Linked DNA regions of Homo sapiens: all the other regions are linked to region 3. The links come from fine-mapping of genetic effects on gene expression. A gene starts in region 3. Each other region holds a variant in brackets. All regions are shown on one strand. Distances are between the middles of the regions. Region 1 overlaps CMPK1 (cytidine/uridine monophosphate kinase 1). Region 2 has its middle 25 kb from the start of FOXD2. Region 3 holds the start of FOXD2-AS1 (FOXD2 adjacent opposite strand RNA 1).

Region 1 (2,759 bases), 91 kb after region 3:
ACACTAAGGGCATCATAAACTGAGAACGTTTGAGAGTCTTTAAGCTAAGATCTGAAGGATGACTAAGGCATTTCAAAAACCATGTAGTAGAATGAAGGCCAGGCGTGGTGGCTCACGCCTGTAATCCCAGCACTTTGGGAGGCTGAAGCAGGCGGATCACCTGAGGTCAGGAGTTTGAGACCAGCCTGAGCAACATGGTGAAACCCCATCTCTGCTAAAAATATAATAAATTAGCCGGGCATGGTGGTGCACGCTTGTAATCCCAGCTACTCAGGAGGCTGAGGCAGGAGAATCGCGTGAACCCAGGAGGCAAAGGTTGCAATGTGCCAATATCGCACCACTGCACTCCAGCCTGAGCAACAGAGCCAGAGTCCTTGTAAAAATAAATAAATAAATAAATGAAAAACGTGTAGTGAAATGAGAGGGAAAAGACAGGGTCCCCACCCTTAAAGACATTACACTCTAGTTAGGGAGGCAAAACTAAAAGATAAACAATTTTGAAATAATTTACAGTTAGGCCGGGCATGGTGGTTCACACCTGTAATCCCAGCACTGTGGAAGGTGAGGCAGGCAGATCACCTGAGGTCAGGAGTTCGAGACCAGCCTGGCCAACATGGTAAAACCCCATCTCTACTAAAAATACAAAAATTAGCCAGGTATGGTGGTGTGTGCCTGTAATCCCAGCTACTTGGGAGGCTGAGGCAGGAGAATCGCTTGAACCCGGGAAGTGGAGGTTGCAGTGAGCCAAGACTGTGCTACTGCATTCCAGCCTGGGTGACAGAGTGAGACTCCATCTCAAAAAAAAAAAAAGAAAAAATAATAATAATTTACAGTTGAACTTTAATACCTGCAAAGTTCTTTCATATCTGTTTGCATTCAAGGGAGTGTTTTTTGAGTCAGCCTCACGTATGTCGGTTTACCCTCTCACACTTTACTCAGAATTGAATCCTTCAGTAACCCTATACAAGGATAACTGCTCTAAGCGTTTTTCCATCTCCCAACTGCTTCTTTCCCACTGTCCTTCAAAATTGAGCTCATACACATCACCTCCTCTGGGAAGCCCTCCCTGACTCATTAAATTGACATTTAGATGTCCCTTCCCTAAACGTCCCTAAATGGGATATTTGGTATATTTATATCATAGGATTTATCATTCTATCCTGTAGTCATCACCAATTAATTTCCTTGTTTCCTCACTACATTGTAAACTTTTGGCAGCAGGGTCTGTCGTCTTTTTTTTTTTTTTAAGACATGGTCTTGCTCTGTTGCACAGGCTGAAGCGCAGTGGCGTGATCATGTCTTATTGCAGCCTTGAATTCTCTTTCTCAGGTGATTCTCTCACCTCAGCCTCTCAAGTAACTGGGACCACAGGCACGCACCACCAGGCCCAGCTAATTTTTTGTAGAGATGGGCTTTTTTTTTTTTTTGAGACGGAGTCTCTCTCTGTCATCCAGGCTGGAGTGCAGTGGCGCGATCTCGGCTCACCGCAAGCTCCGCCTCCTGGGTTCACGCCATGCTCCTGCCTCAGCCTCCTGAGTAGCTGGACTACAGGCGCCCGCCACCATGCAGGGATGGGCTTTTGATGTTTCCCAGGCTGGTCTTGAACTCCTTGGCTCAAGTAATTC[T/A]TGCACCCTGGCTTCCCAAAGTGCTGGGATTACAGGCATGAGCCACTGCAACTGGCCAATCTGCGTCTTCTGACTCAACTCAACAACCAATATCACAGTGCCTGGCTCTCAAAAAATGTTTTCTGAATAAATGACAAGTACAGGGAAGTTTTGTGGGTTTTTTTGAGACTTTTTTTTTTTTGAGACGGAGTCTCACTCTGTTGCCCAGGCTGGAGTGCAATGGTGTGGTCTTGGCTCACTACGACGTCCTCCTCCCAGGTTCAAGCGATTCTCCTACCTCAGCCTCCGGAGTAGCTGGGATTACAGCCTCCTGATCCACCCGCCTTGGCTCCCAAAATGCTGGGATTACAGGTGTGAGCCACTGCGCCCGGCCAGGAAAATATTTTTTAAAAATACACAGAGGGCCGGGCATTGTGGCTCATGCCTGTAATCCCAGCACTTTGGGAGGCCAAGGCAGGTGGATCACTTGAGGTCTGGAGTTCAAGACCAGCCTGACCAACATGGTGAAACCTCATCTCTACTAAAAATACAAAAATTAACTGGGTGTGGTGGCATGTGCCTGTATTCTCAGCTACTCGGGAAGTGGAGGCACAAGAATTGCTTGAATCCGGGAGGCGGAGGTTGCAGTGAGCAGAGATCACGCCATTGCACTCTAGCCTGGGCGACAGAGCAAGATTCCGTTTCAAAAAAAAAAAAAAAATACAAATGGTTAATTATGCCATTTCACTTTAAAAAAAGAATTGCCGGGCGCAGTGGCTTATGCCTGTAATCCTAGCACTTTGGGAGGCTGAGGCGGGTGAATCACAAAGCCAGGAGTTTGAGACCAACCTGGCCAACATGGTGAAACCCCATCTCTACTAAAAATACAAAAATTAGCTGGGCATGGTGGCAAGTGCCTGTAATCCCAGCTACTTGGGAGGCTGAGGCAGGAGAATTTCTTGAACCCGGGAGGCAGAAGCTGCAGTGAGCTGAGATGGCACCATTGCACTCCAGGCTGGGCAACAGAGTGAGACCCTGTCTCAAAAAAAAAAAAAAAAAAGAAAAAAGAGAAAAAGGAAAAGATTCTCAAAAATCTCAGAAAATAGATTAACAAATTTGTAAAAATTAAAATAATCTTCCAAGATGATATTCATA
Region 2 (2,759 bases), 28 kb before region 3:
ACGTGCATTGTTCCAAGCAAGCATTAGCTCATGTAACTGTCCTAACCCCTGGCAGGTAGATGTTGTTACTCTGGCTTTGTAGACAAAGCAAGGGAGGCACTGAGAGGTTAAATGGCTTGCTCAAGATCACAGAGCTGGCAGGCTGTGGAGCCAGGACTTGAACCCAGGCTGTGCAGCTCTGGCAGTGGGACCAGGTGCTTCTAGCTCTGGCATCCAGGGCCTCATCTTCCAACCCTGAAGAGGAGTCTAGTGGGCACAGATCCCTACCCCCAGAGTAGCCAAGACTCTGCAGAAAGAAAGCACACACCCTCCTCCAGAAACTCCATAGAGCCTTCCACAGGCCATAGCAGATGCTTCGTGGAAATTCTTCTTTCTTTTTTTCCCCAGCTTCTAATGGTTGCCACAGCTTAGAAAACTCAAAGATCCTCAACCCTTCCCTGTCTGCCCTCCAGCCCTGCCAGTTCTGAACTTTATACCTTCAGCTTTTTTCTGGCTCTTGACAAGTGGAAAAAAAATCATTCTTAGGATTGGTGTGCGTGTGTGTGTGTGTCCCTATTCATAGAAAAAAAATGACATTTGAGGCCCCTCCCCCAACTCCCAGTTTCATAACACCAGAAGAGACAAGGAGCTGGACAGAAACTCCAGGAGGTGGCCACAGACTCCTGCCCACTTACCCCCATCCCACCATGGGCCACACAGCAAATCCTCTGTGGCCCAATCCTTTCCCTTTCCTTTCTGCAGTGAATTACTGTTGTGGCCTCAACTCCAACCTGGAAAATGTTGCATTCCTGCCCACCTTCCAACCTCATCGCCCACAACTCCCTGGCACAAACCCTTTTTTCCAGACAAACCAGGCTCCTCATTGATCTCAACACATGTTTCATGCTTTCCTACCTCTGTGCTTTTGCCCACATGACTTCTTCTCCAGGAATGCCCTCCCTTCTCCTCTTCCTTTCTCCAAATCCTACCATCCTTCAAGGCTCTGCTGGAGACAAGCACCTGACTGAGAACTTACTATGTGGTTGTAGATTCTGGAGATACAGG[G/C]GTGAGTGGATAGGGTCCCTGCTCTCAAAATAGTAATTAAAAAGTAATTACCCAATTGCAAGGAGTTCGAAGCCTTCCCTGTTACCCCTTTGCTCACTTTCCCTCTGCCTGAGTGCCTGCTCCATCACTTCCTACAATGCCTGCACAGAGCGGCGCTCAATAACCATCCATCTCTCCCTTCCACTACCGTCTCCACTTGGGAAATTCTCTTAAATCTTTAAGTCCTTCAACCAATGCCCATCTCCTTCAGAGAACCTTCCATAATCCCCTTGTCCTCTAAACTACCCCTCATTGGGCTAGGTGGGCTTCTCTGTGGGCAGCCCTGTGCTGAATCTCATTATTTCACTTTCCACAGTGGGTGTCATCACCAACCCCACAGCCTCAGGGCCTCTGACCTGCAATTTTCCTTCCACTTGTCCCAGTGTGCCATACAAGGATCATCATGTCTGACACGTGCCATGCCACAGCAAATCTGGGGGCACTTCAGTGGACCGCCATGATGTGTACAGGGTACTTCTGACATTGTAAAAGGCTACTGGTCTGGAAAGTCTCAGTGTTAACTGCACAGATCTAGATGTTTGTGTTGAGCAGTGTCATTCTTATGGTTAGAGCCAGATCATTTTTAACTTTATTTTGCTCAAAATTACTATATTGGATGGTCTTTTGATATTGTTTTAGTAGTTGTTGAATGGGTTGCTTGACAGACAAAACATGGCATGGCAAACAGGTACAGCTTCAACCAGCAAAATTCATCTCTCCATCTACTGCCCCAAAAATTGTTCAGGAATTGGAACAATGAAAAGTCTTCATTAATGACTATTGGTCAAAAATAATCTGGTAAGATACAGAAACTCAGTGTGGAAAGGGGCCAAATCAGTGTAAGACGGTGTTCTTTGTAGAGTACGTTTAAAAGGAAGTGAGAGCTAAATCAAACTCTGTAATTTCAACAAGCACATTATCACAAAGATAATGAGAAGCCAGTCAAAGATGCAATCATGTCTCAAAACTCTTGGACAAATGATTGGAATTTCCTGAGGTGTTAGCTCCTTCGGTGAGGTTACTGCTTGCCCTAATAGGATGGGCAGGTCTCAGTGCTGATGGGGAGTAGGAAAGCCTTTGCTATTGAGCAGAGTAGAGGTATAGTTTAGAAGACGTAATGTGATCTTGCTCCAGCTCACCACACTCTCATATGATGATCCCATGACAGGCAGCTCCAGGGGCAGCCATCTGCCATGCTGAGGATGATCTCCACTCAGCCAATTGCTTTAGAAGCCACTGTCCCAGGTGGCCCAGCACTTGGTCCCACATCAGAAAGACAGGCATCATGGTGTGAGGACTTACCTGTCTGTAGAGGGTCCTCACACCTCTCTGGGGTGTGCTTAGAGCTACATGCAGAATGTTCAAGGCTTATCCAACAGACCTGAAACCATTGTCTCAGATGTCATGAAGGAGTAGAAAGTACCTGAAAGTCACAGCTTACTCTAAGATGGAAGAACTCCCTCCTGCTGCTTCCAGGCACACACCTGTCCAAGGAACCATCACTACAGGCAGGACTTTACATGAGTGAATTCAACATCCAAAAGCTAATCATTGGAATAGAAGCAGGACCACTCACTAGTGCATTAAGAAAGAGATCCTTGTGGAGAATGGAAAGCTGCAGAGGATCACAATTATTAGTAGTAACTATTATCAACATTATTAACTTGAGGAGGAGC
Region 3 (2,759 bases):
AAAAATGGAAGGCAGGTCTGACTACTCATGTCCTTTGAGAGGAAGTCGCCTGGGCCCCCTCTGGGACCTCTGACCAAGGGGATCCATTTAATGTGCTGTTCCAGCATAAACTGTCATTGGAAAAAAGAGAAATCTCGTCCTCAAACCATGGACAGCAAATTGGACAGGGACTAGTAGCCCTGGAATTGGAATTTCCTGGGTGACAGACTGTCCGGGGAAAAAGGTCTTGGAGAGAAGCTTCTTGCATGAGTCCAAGGAAACTCACATACCTAGGGTTGCTAGATTTAGCAGATTTATTTTATCTGGCAACCCTACACATACCTCAAGCTTGCTCTTGACTACATGGATATCTGTCTCACACTCCCAGAACCCCACTCACAGATACCCCACACCATGGACCACACACCAACTCCAACCCAGCTCAACTCTGCTAGTATCTAAACAAGTGGAGAGAAAAACAGTGTTGGCGTCATCCTACTCCATTTCACCTTCTGAATGTCCTCATTTCTTTTTTTTCTTTTCTTTTTTTTTTTTTTTTTTTTTTTTGACTGAGTTTCGCTCTTGTTGCCCCCCTGCTGGAGTAAAATGGCCTGATCTCAGCAGCTCACCACAACCTCAGCCTCCCAGGTTCAAATGATTCTCCTGCCTCAGCCTCCCAAATAGCTGGGATTACAGGCAGGCACCAACATGCCCGGCTAATTTTGTGTTTTTAGTAGAGAGGAGGTTTCTCCATGTTGGTCAGGCTGGTCTCAAACTCCCTACCTCAGGTGATCCACCCGCCTCGGCCTCCCAAAGTGCTGGGACTACAGGCGTGAGCCACCCTGCCCGGCCTGAATGTCCTCGTTTCTAAAACAGCAAATGGGAACCAGTAGCTTCCTTCCTTGCCAGCACTCCCCTGGCTCCCCAGGCTTTGGTCAGGGTGAGACTAGCCAGGGCACTTGCTGCCCAAATTTCCTGCTTCAGAGAAGTTCTACCAAGCAGCTACAGCAGCCAGCCCTTGCCTCTGCCTGGCCTTGCTGCACGTTCACTGCTACTGAGACCTACACTGGGGAAGGGGAGTACAGAATCCCCAGCTTCTGCTCTGCAGGGTTGGGGAGGGAGAATCCAGACCCTTCACATACATACTTTTTACAGGAGCGGAAACTGAGGTCCAGGAGATCATGTTACTTGTCAGGCTTTTGAGGGGCGCTAAGCTGGGTTGGACCTACGTGTCCGGGTTCCTAGCCCAGAACCCCTCTGTTTATCCAAATAGCTGTTTCTCTAACCGAGCTCCTCTCTGTATAGAGGGATTTCTAGTAGCCTCTCCTCCCTTCCAAGGTTCTGGGCCAGTTTGTTTTCAACAGTGTCAGGAGTAAGTGCACTGGGGACTGGGAGAAGGGCCACCGCGGGATTCGGAATTTATTTCGTTTTCTTTGCTTCTTCTGTGACCCTTACTTCTTTCGCCTACCGGCTCAGCCTGTTCGGCGTCTTGCAGCAGTGCCTGCGATCCCGCGTGAGTCCGTCGCTCCCTCCGCGAAAACCTGGACTCTTTCCCAGAAGCCTTGGGCTCCAGCACCATGCCTGCTGCAGCCGCCAAAGAGCGGGAAGCCACAGGCTCTGCGGGTCTTGGTTACAGCGTCTCTGGTCGTGCCGGGCCTCCTTCTGCATCTGTTCCACGGCCCGGCCATCTCCCTCGTGCAGCCCAGAACAATTGGGAGGAAGCGTTGGCGGGCGGAGGGGGATGCCTGTTGGGCTTTTCCACTAGTTACTGAGTGTTTTTTGCGAAGAGTACGTTGCTATCAGTGGCGTCCGGGTCGTCTCTCCCTCTCTTCCTTTTGGTCCCCATAAATGAGCTGTTCTCGGCTCTGGGAAAGAAAAGCCCTCCAGCGATTATGCGGATCTAATTAAGTCAATCAGGAAACTGCCGGAGAGCGGCACTGGCTTGAAGCGGAGTTTGTCCTGAGGCACAGCGGAACGATTGCACGCGGCCCTTTTCAGCGGTTCGAGCTCGGCCAGCGCCGGGCTGCAAACGGAAGCCTGAGCTGGGCTTGGGGAACTACGCCCGCAGATTTCTCTAATTTTATTCACAAAACTGGACACCCTCAGGGAAAGCGGCAAAGCCGGCGCGAGCCTCCTTCCCACTCTGGACCTAGCTGCAGCTCCAAAGCGAGATAGCTGTCTAGCCTCAGCCGGTACAGCTCCCGGCCCCTTTCTCCACCCGGATCTTCGGCTGCTCAGAAGCGATCAGCTCCCTTAGCCCAGGTGGGAGGCGGGAGACTCCAGATCCTGTGACCCGCGGAGGCAGACCTCAGACATGTTCCCCATGCACAGAAATGACTGGGGCTCCAGTGTGTGCACCTTCAACTCTGAAGCCCACCTGCCCACTTCAGGCGCTGGCGCGGAGATAACCACCACGCGTCTGCCGGGCAAAGTTCGAGAGTGAATTTACATCTTCTCTTTCCGCTACTCCTGGCCACTGTCCCCTCCCAGCCCCATCTCCCCCGCCCCCAACCCTGGACTATGTGGTAGGGGACTCGCTTAAGCACCCAAGTACTGCGCGGTTGTTGAGACCAAGGCGAGCTGCGGAGCCTGTGGGCTGTTGTTCGTGGGAAGAGGGTTGCGACCTCAGGAGAGACCGAAAACAGCGCCACTTGAAACCCGCCGGTCCTGAAGATCACAGAGTTCCCGGAGTGGTAGGGAAGGCTCCACGCTCTTGAGAGCAGAGGCGGCCAGGGGCAGTGGGGGACGCTTCCAGGTATGTGGGAAGGAGAACTTCATGT

Evidence for each region. PIP is the estimated chance that this variant, and not a neighbour inherited with it, causes the effect. A credible set is the group of variants that fine-mapping cannot tell apart.
Region 1: its variant is the best candidate, but not a certain one, in a credible set for the expression of FOXD2-AS1 in whole blood (INTERVAL, PIP 0.63).
Region 2: its variant is the best candidate, but not a certain one, in a credible set for the expression of FOXD2-AS1 in whole blood (TOPMed, PIP 0.61).

Annotation. Positions count from the first base shown.
Region 1 is chr1:47,342,555-47,345,313 of GRCh38, reverse strand. The region is part of intron 1 of CMPK1 (cytidine/uridine monophosphate kinase 1); the gene reads right to left. Among named protein-coding and RNA genes, the nearest start is that of CMPK1, 10 kb to the right of the region's middle. The variant T/A (reference allele first, on the strand shown) is at 1,626.
Region 2 is chr1:47,461,611-47,464,369 of GRCh38, reverse strand. No RefSeq gene overlaps it. Among named protein-coding and RNA genes, the nearest start is that of FOXD2, 25 kb to the right of the region's middle. The variant G/C (reference allele first, on the strand shown) is at 1,045.
Region 3 is chr1:47,433,338-47,436,096 of GRCh38, reverse strand. FOXD2-AS1 (FOXD2 adjacent opposite strand RNA 1) reads left to right here and starts at 1,456. Exons shown (of 1, transcript NR_026878.1): 1 at 1,456-2,759. All of the region lies in intron 1 of LINC01389 (long intergenic non-protein coding RNA 1389), which reads left to right. RefSeq lists an enhancer at 1,456-1,971.